Homo sapiens: one gene and its partner. The protein of the gene in region 1 purifies or fractionates together with the protein of each later gene. This does not show direct contact. Each region holds a gene or a part of one and is shown in the gene's direction. Other genes may lie near its edges.

Region 1 (4,085 bases):
AACCCTGAAAAAGAAGAGTAAAATAAACCCAAAGTTAATAAACATTTAAGCCAATAATAAAAATAATGAAAATCATGAAATAGAAAAATGAACAAACAATAGAGACAATCAGTGGTCAATTTTTCTGTACTCCATGAACAAAACTTCAGTTCAGAATGATTTTATATTTAAATATATATCCAGAATCACAAAGATCTTAGAAGAAAAAATTAGGAAAATATAGGAATAAAGTGGGAACTCTGTGGGAATAAAAATCAGAAAGTAATTGCCTACCAGGTAAACTCGGGGGAGGGCAGGCAATTGACTAAGAACAGGCAGATAAAACTTTCTGGAGTGAAGGAAATGGTGGTCTTCTTTTCGTTGGTACTTACATGGACATATATAACTGTCAAGGTTCATTGACAATGAACACTTAAGTGTACACTGAACGCTTAAGATCTGGGCCTTGTAATGCCCAGATTACATCTACTTAAAAAAACTACATCTCTATTTTTTTAAGTAGAGAAAAGTGTCTTGGGGAGTTTATGGCAGTGATGTTTGGGCAGACTGGGGCATAGGTTTCAGAAGCATTCATAGCATCTTCAGTTCAACAATTTGCTAAGAATGGTTTTGCAGCCAAAAATGTAAGATGAGTGCAAATATCTATGATTAGAGTCATTGGGCATACAACTACAAATCCCCACACTTGTATTACAGGCCATATGATTAATTCGTTATCACTAGATACCTTTCCTTCAATGAGGTTCTTCCATTAGGAACCCAGAGCTCTCCAGGGAAAAATTGCAATTGAGGTTTTGGATATATTGGGTGGAAAAGAAAGTCACCTCACATAAAACTTAGTGATTGGAGCTGTCACCATTGAAAATTTCTAAACTTTGCAAGACAGCAGTGACGTTTCAAATGACACTCTCAGAGAGTTGATAATGGGCTAAAATAGATCTCCCTCCAGGTGGATTTACTGTACAAGGACAACATTTACATTGCACTTGGAGACTTCTCCCAGTTTGGTTTAAGTTCACAGATTGCAGATCCCAGACAGCTGGTATCAACTGACCAGTGTTCTGTTAAGGCTAAAGCCAAGACTCTTTATCACACTGTGGCCTTAAGATTGGATTTCTCTTCCTGTTCCTGGGAAGAATTAGAGATATAACCTAAAGGTCACTATTATTCTGAGAAAAGGGATTCTGGAGGAGGAGGGAGCAATGAGTATGTGGCAGGAGTTCAAGGTAATAAGGGCTGAGACACAAGCCACAGAGCATAAAGCTCCAGTCCTTCCTCCAGGGATGAGGCAGTAAGGACTTGGACTCCTCTGTCCAGCTTTTAACAATCTAAGTTACGGTTAGAGCTTTCTCCTTTTCTTTCAACTACTCCTGGCAGTTGTGGGGTCATGGAATTTTTGTAAAAAATGGGGTGGAGGAAAATAAGGCATCTGCTGAGTGTATAACCATTTTACCTCTTGTTTTTAGCCCTCTTCTGGGTCACGCTAGAATCAGATCTGCTCTCCAGCATCTTCTGTTTCCTGGCAAGTGTTTCCTGCTACTTTGGATTGGCCACGATGGGCTGGAGCTGCCTTGTGACAGGAGCAGGAGGGCTTCTGGGTCAGAGGATCGTCCGCCTGTTGGTGGAAGAGAAGGAACTGAAGGAGATCAGGGCCTTGGACAAGGCCTTCAGACCAGAATTGAGAGAGGAATTTTCTAGTAAGTAAACTTGAGTCATGGGTCTGTGGCTCCATCTTAAACTCTGCATGGGTGTGGGGAGGTTGACCTTGTCTAGCAAGTTAAGGAAAGTTGTAGCCAAATGAAAGCCAGTCACACATCTAAAGTCATCAGAAAGGAAATAGAATAAAATGGTATAGTGTGAAAGATACTGGATGGGGTGTCCAGAGACTGGATTCTGGCCCTGACGCAGAACTTGAGAGGCAGCCATGTCAGCCTCAAGGCCCCTTTTCTTCTCTTCTAGAGAGTCACACATGAGTTCTCCTTCTTGTCTACAACTCTTATGTTCTGAAGCTTTTTGTCTTGGCGATTGCTGTGCGACATTCACAAAGGACATCATTTACCTGGAGACCTCACCAGTGGGTCCTGCCTGTCTAGACTGCCCCAGGCTTCATTTCATTTTATAGCTTCCTTAGTATCTTTAGTGAGGGCAAAATAAAAGGAAGTGAAGGTACGGATGTGTGTGTAATTGTGTGTGTGTGTCAGACAGAGAAAGAAAATGAGGGGGAAAGAAGGTCAGAGACAGAGAATGAGAAAGACAGAGAATGAATGAGAAAGATAGTGTGAGGGAGAGCATCAGCAAGAGAGAGAGAGTGAAAGTGAGAGAGATCATCAGTGAGAGAGAGAGAAAGAGAGAAAGAGAGCATGCACAAGTGCACGGCACAGAGCAGAGACAGAGTAAAAGGCAGTATGAGGCCAACATGCCTCATTTATATTTCTCATATATAGCCTTTTTAAAAAAAAACCATTTGTATCTGTTGTTCAATACTCCAAATAAATTGACTGCAGAATTTGCTGTAGTAACTCTTTGTGCAAATAACCCTGTGAGGAAGGTAGAAAAGGGGTCACCTCCAACTGGACAATGAACCCATCAAGTTCCAGAAACATAAAGTTACTTGCCAAGAACAGCTGATTAATGTGTAGCAGAGCTCAGACCAGAGCTTCATTCCAGAAGCTTCATCACTTGACCCCCGGGCTAATCCTTGGTGGGTCTTCAGTCTCTCCCTTTGCCTCTCTGTGTGCCCCAAACCAATTCCATGTTTTCCTCCCAACCCAGGGGACTGGGGGAACTATGTATCTTCTTCATGCAGGTTCTGGCTGCCTAGAAGGTCCTGCCCTGTTCACACAGAAGCTCCCCTTGACACTCTCCTCTTCTTTCACTCTTCTCTGACCTCTTTAAATGTCCAATTTCCTCCACTCTCTGTTCTAATAGTGAACAGATATTAACACATGACTGATATTAAATGTTTGTAATCCTTATGTCTCAGCAATATTTACAATCTAACATCTGATACCAGGAAAAAGCAATGCTCAGTCTAGAGGAAGAGTTCTGCTATGGTGAAAATGCAGGGAGCATAATGGATGGGCAGGGCCTGTATGAAGATAAAAACAGAGAATCCTTTCAGTGTTCTTTCTGTGCCAGGCACTGTGCTAAAGGTTTTGCATGTGCTGACTCATTTACTTCCCATAACAACCCTATGAGATGGGTAATACTATTATCCTCCTTTTTTATAGATGAGGAGACAGACACAGAGAGGTTAATCAACTTGTCGAAGGTCCCAAGTTAGATTACGGCAAAGCTGGATTTGAATCCAGGCAGTCTAGTGCAGCTTCTGTGCTCTTAAGTAGTAGTTTGTCTAGCAGCTTCTCTGAGCCTCCCTCCAGCCCAACACACAACACAAAAGCAACTGAATTTAGTCTACATGAAACACTTGCCAAGTCCACAGTGCCTTGGAGAAGGAGGGAGCTAAGACTCCATCAAAAATTGCGCTTTTCTGGTCTCTCTAGATCCATGGAAACTCACCGGGGAAGAGTCATTTTCTATCGGCTTTGGACTTCTGCTATGAAATGGCAATTCCTTTGAGCCAGTCTGTCTAAAGTCGGCAGCAAAGGAGAAGCAGATGAAGGGAGTAGAAAAGGTAGAGGTGGAAATACAACCAGAGAAAATTCCACTCTCGGGCTGACACCCACCTCCTCCCCAGCAGCCTCTTCCCTGCCTCCACCATTCCAGGGCCTTCTTGGAGTTGCCTGACAGTGGGAAGGGGCTGGGAGTAGACAAAACAAGGCAGAGGCATCAGAAGAGCAAATGGTCCCACCTGTATCCCAGGAAGGAATTTCTCCAGCCTTGAATTTTTCATTCTGAATTTCGCTCTCACTGTTCTTTGGCCTTTGTGGGCATTTTCAGTTAAACTGGCTTATTCTTACTCTTTCTCAGAAAAGTTGATTCTAAACAGCTATTCCTGCACCTGGGGTACAGGGTACAAAAATGGCAGGTGGAATGGGCAGGTTTGAGCCTTCACTAGAAAATTGACTTTAGATCTGTCCCTTAACCTCTCTGAGCCTCAGTTTCCTCACCAATAAAGTGGGACT
Region 2 (3,500 bases), about 110 Mb from region 1:
CCAAAAGGGATTCTAATTCTCATTACAAATCCTGCTTAAATCAGTGTTTCCCAAAGGTGGCTGTCATCAGAACCACTTGATAAGCTTTTTCAAAAAGTGGATCTCCAGGTCCCACCCCTGGAGGTTCTCACTCAGTAAATCTGAGGGAGGTCCTCGGAATGTGTGTTTTACTTCTTGAGCTTGGCAGGTGATTCGGATGATCAGTGCAGCATGGGAACAGCTGGGTTAGATGACACCATGTTACCAACAGACACATCTAGGGCTAAAAGGCTGGCTCAACCCAAGGCTGGAATGCTTAGGGCAGCTGCTCTACTCTGTAAAAAGTGGGAAAGCTGGGCATAGTGGCACGTGCCTGTAGTCCCGGCTACTTGAGAAGCTGAGGCAGGAGGATGGCTTGAGCCCTGGCGTTTGAGAGCAGTGAGACTCAGTCTCTAAAAACAGAAAAAAGAGGAGAAAACGGCAGGCCAAGCCCAGGTGTGCTCCTAGAATATGATCGGACTTTCGTGGGTCCCTCTGCCTGACACTGTGGTTGGCATGGATGATGGAAGGGGGAGAAGTATTTAGGGTGGGAGACGGGCTGGCCAGCAGCCGCCACAGCCCCTCATGTCTTGGACAGGGCTACCACTCCCTTCGGCAGCTTGTGAAGCTGTCCAAGCTGGAGGTGCCACAGGAGATCAAGGACGTGATTGAGCCAATCAAAGACAACGATGCTGCCATCCGCAACTATGGCATCGAGCTGGCCGTGAGCCTGTGCCAGGAGCTTCTGGCCAGTGGCTTGGTGCCAGGCCTCCACTTCTACACCCTCAACCGCGAGATGGCTACCACAGAGGTGCTGAAGCGCCTGGGGATGTGGACTGAGGACCCCAGGTGAGGGCAGTGGCCCAGAGATCCCCAGAGGAGGGTCCAAGAGCAGCCCCGGCTGCAGTGCTGGCTCCCCACGGTGGTACAGATGGATGTCTGTGCCATGGCTAGCTGGGCACATCGAAGGCTCCAGTCTCAGAGGGCATCAGATGGAAGAACTCAGCCTCAGGGGTGCTCCCCTGCTTCCGGCTCCCTCTAGCCAATCCCTTGTCTCAATTCTCTGTCCCCATCCTCACCCAGGCGTCCCCTACCCTGGGCTCTCAGCGCCCACCCCAAGCGCCGAGAGGAAGATGTACGTCCCATCTTCTGGGCCTCCAGACCAAAGAGTTACATCTACCGTACCCAGGAGTGGGACGAGTTCCCTAACGGCCGCTGGTGAGGGCCTGCAGACCTTCCTTGCAAATACATCTTTGTTCTTGGGAGCGGGAGGGCAGAAGAAGTTTGCATGCTTGTGGTTGACCTGGGAGGAGTCAGGGGCAGAATTTACAGGAATGGCCTCCTGGGCATGTGGTGGCACTGCCCTCTGTCAGGAGTGTGCCCTGACCTCTGGGCACCCCTCTGCCAGGGGCAATTCCTCTTCCCCTGCCTTTGGGGAGCTGAAGGACTACTACCTCTTCTACCTGAAGAGCAAGTCCCCCAAGGAGGAGCTGCTGAAGATGTGGGGGGAGGAGCTGACCAGTGAAGAAAGTGTCTTTGAAGTCTTCGTTCTTTACCTCTCGGGAGAACCAAACCGGAATGGTCACAAAGTGAGTGATGCTGGAGTGGGGACCCTGGTTCATCCCCTGCCCCTGGCCTGACCCCAGCTGCAGGCCAGGCTGCGGGGCTGTGACTTCCCCATCCTGTGCCCTCCCCTCCATGCTGTGGACATGGCAAAGGGAGAAGGGTAAGTTGGGAGACCTCCACCTGGAAGGGCTTAGGGAGGCAAAGACAGGCTGGGTCTTTGTTGGGGGCCGTGAGAGGGACTCAGGGTGCCAAACCTGATGGTCGCCCCAGCCAGCTCACCGTCTCTCCCAGGTGACTTGCCTGCCCTGGAACGATGAGCCCCTGGCGGCTGAGACCAGCCTGCTGAAGGAGGAGCTGCTGCGGGTGAACCGCCAGGGCATCCTCACCATCAACTCACAGCCCAACATCAACGGGAAGCCGTCCTCCGACCCCATCGTGGGCTGGGGCCCCAGCGGGGGCTATGTCTTCCAGAAGGTGTGGTAGGGAGGCACGGGGTGCCCCCCTCTCTTGACCGGCACCCGTGGGTTCCCCAGAGCTTAGGGCAGAGCAGCCTGCCTCTCCTGGGCTCTTAAATTTTGAATGAGCATGGATTGGAGCGGATGGGAGCTCATGCTTTAAGTCAGATAGACCTGGCTGGGCACGGAACCCGGCCAGCACTTTGGGAGGCCAAGGCGGGTGGATCACTTGAGCCCAGGAGTTCGAGACCAGCCTGGGCAACATGGTGAAACCCATTCTCTACAAAAAATACAAAAATGACCGAGGCATGGTGGTGTACACCTGTAGTCCCAGGTACTTAGGGGGCTGGGGTGAGAGGATCGCTTGAGTCCGAGAGGTTGAGCCTCCAGTAAGCCATATTTGTGCCTCTGCACTCCAGCCTGGCCCACAAAGTGAGACCCTGTCTCAAAAAAAAAAAAAAAAAAAAAAAAAAAAGATTGGCTGGGCTTGGTGGCTCATGCCTGTAATCCCAGCACTTTAGGAGGCCAAGGTGGGCAGATCACAAGGTCAGGAGTTCGAGACCAGCCTGACAAACATGATGAAACCCCATCTCTACTAAAAATACAACAATTAGCCGGGTGTGGTGGCGGGCACCTGTAGTTGCAGCTACTTGGGAGGCTGAGGCAGGAGAATCGCTTGAACCCGGGAGACGGAGGTTGCAGTGAGCTGAGATCATGCCACTGCACTCCAGCCTGGGCAACAGAGCAAGACTCCATCTCAAAAAAAAAAAAAAAAAGATAGAAATCAGACCTATGGAGGCAGGTCACTCGACCTCTCTGAGCCTGGTTTTCTCGTCTGTAAAATGGGATGTAGCTTGTGTTCTGGGCATGAAACCTAACAAAGCATGTAACGTGCTTGGCACATGGTAAGAGCAGGAAGCACTCCCTGAAAGGCAGCTGCTGTTACTATCCTGAGTTGACACCTTTCTCCCAGGGCTGCTGGAGTTAACATTATGTTCTGATCTAAGGCCCACAGGCCCTGGAGCAGAAAGACCTGAGTTTAAGGACCAGCTCTACTGTTTACTGTCAGAGTAGCCAACGTGCTCAACTTCCCTGAACCCACTTTCCTCACGTGGGGCTCACTGTGCCCAGCCTCCCGTATTATCAGCATTCTAGCAAATGAGTTTGAGTAAACCCAGCTTAATCCCTGATAGGCACTGGTTCTAGAGGAGATGTCAATGTCATTGTCAGCTTGCACTGGGGAGGATGGAATGTGTGGGGCCTCTCTCCCATGACTCGGCCTGTCAAACCAGTTGCTGCTGTTCAGAAATGGCTTCTTCGTGGAGTCTTCCCTGACTGATTGGGAGAGGGGTGGCTGATAGCCCTCAGACCTGTCCAGACTGAGAAACTCACGTCCCCACTCCCCTCACCCTTTGCTTATGGACGTGCCAACGCCACAGTTCATTATTCCGCCCACATGGC

Evidence for each region. Proteins that work in one complex are often made in the same cells at the same time.
Region 2: the proteins of HSD3B2 (region 1) and MTHFR purify together in Homo sapiens (affinity purification with mass spectrometry; 2 studies listed by BioGRID and IntAct, with this or other methods). This does not show direct contact.

What each region holds. Positions count from the first base shown.
Region 1 is NC_000001.11:119,413,865-119,417,949, forward strand, and holds the start of HSD3B2 (3 beta-hydroxysteroid dehydrogenase/Delta 5-->4-isomerase type 2), read left to right. Parts: upstream 1-1,285; 5' UTR 1,286-1,338; intron 1,339-1,466; 5' UTR 1,467-1,555; coding exon 1,556-1,697; intron 1,698-4,085. UniProt on the Homo sapiens protein: 3-beta-HSD is a bifunctional enzyme, that catalyzes the oxidative conversion of Delta(5)-ene-3-beta-hydroxy steroid, and the oxidative conversion of ketosteroids.
Region 2 is NC_000001.11:11,792,465-11,795,964, reverse strand, and holds part of MTHFR (methylenetetrahydrofolate reductase (NADPH)), read left to right. Parts: intron 1-616; coding exon 617-867; intron 868-1,101; coding exon 1,102-1,236; intron 1,237-1,426; coding exon 1,427-1,607; intron 1,608-1,875; coding exon 1,876-2,058; intron 2,059-3,500. UniProt on the Homo sapiens protein: Catalyzes the conversion of 5,10-methylenetetrahydrofolate to 5-methyltetrahydrofolate, a cosubstrate for homocysteine remethylation to methionine. Represents a key regulatory connection between the folate and methionine cycles.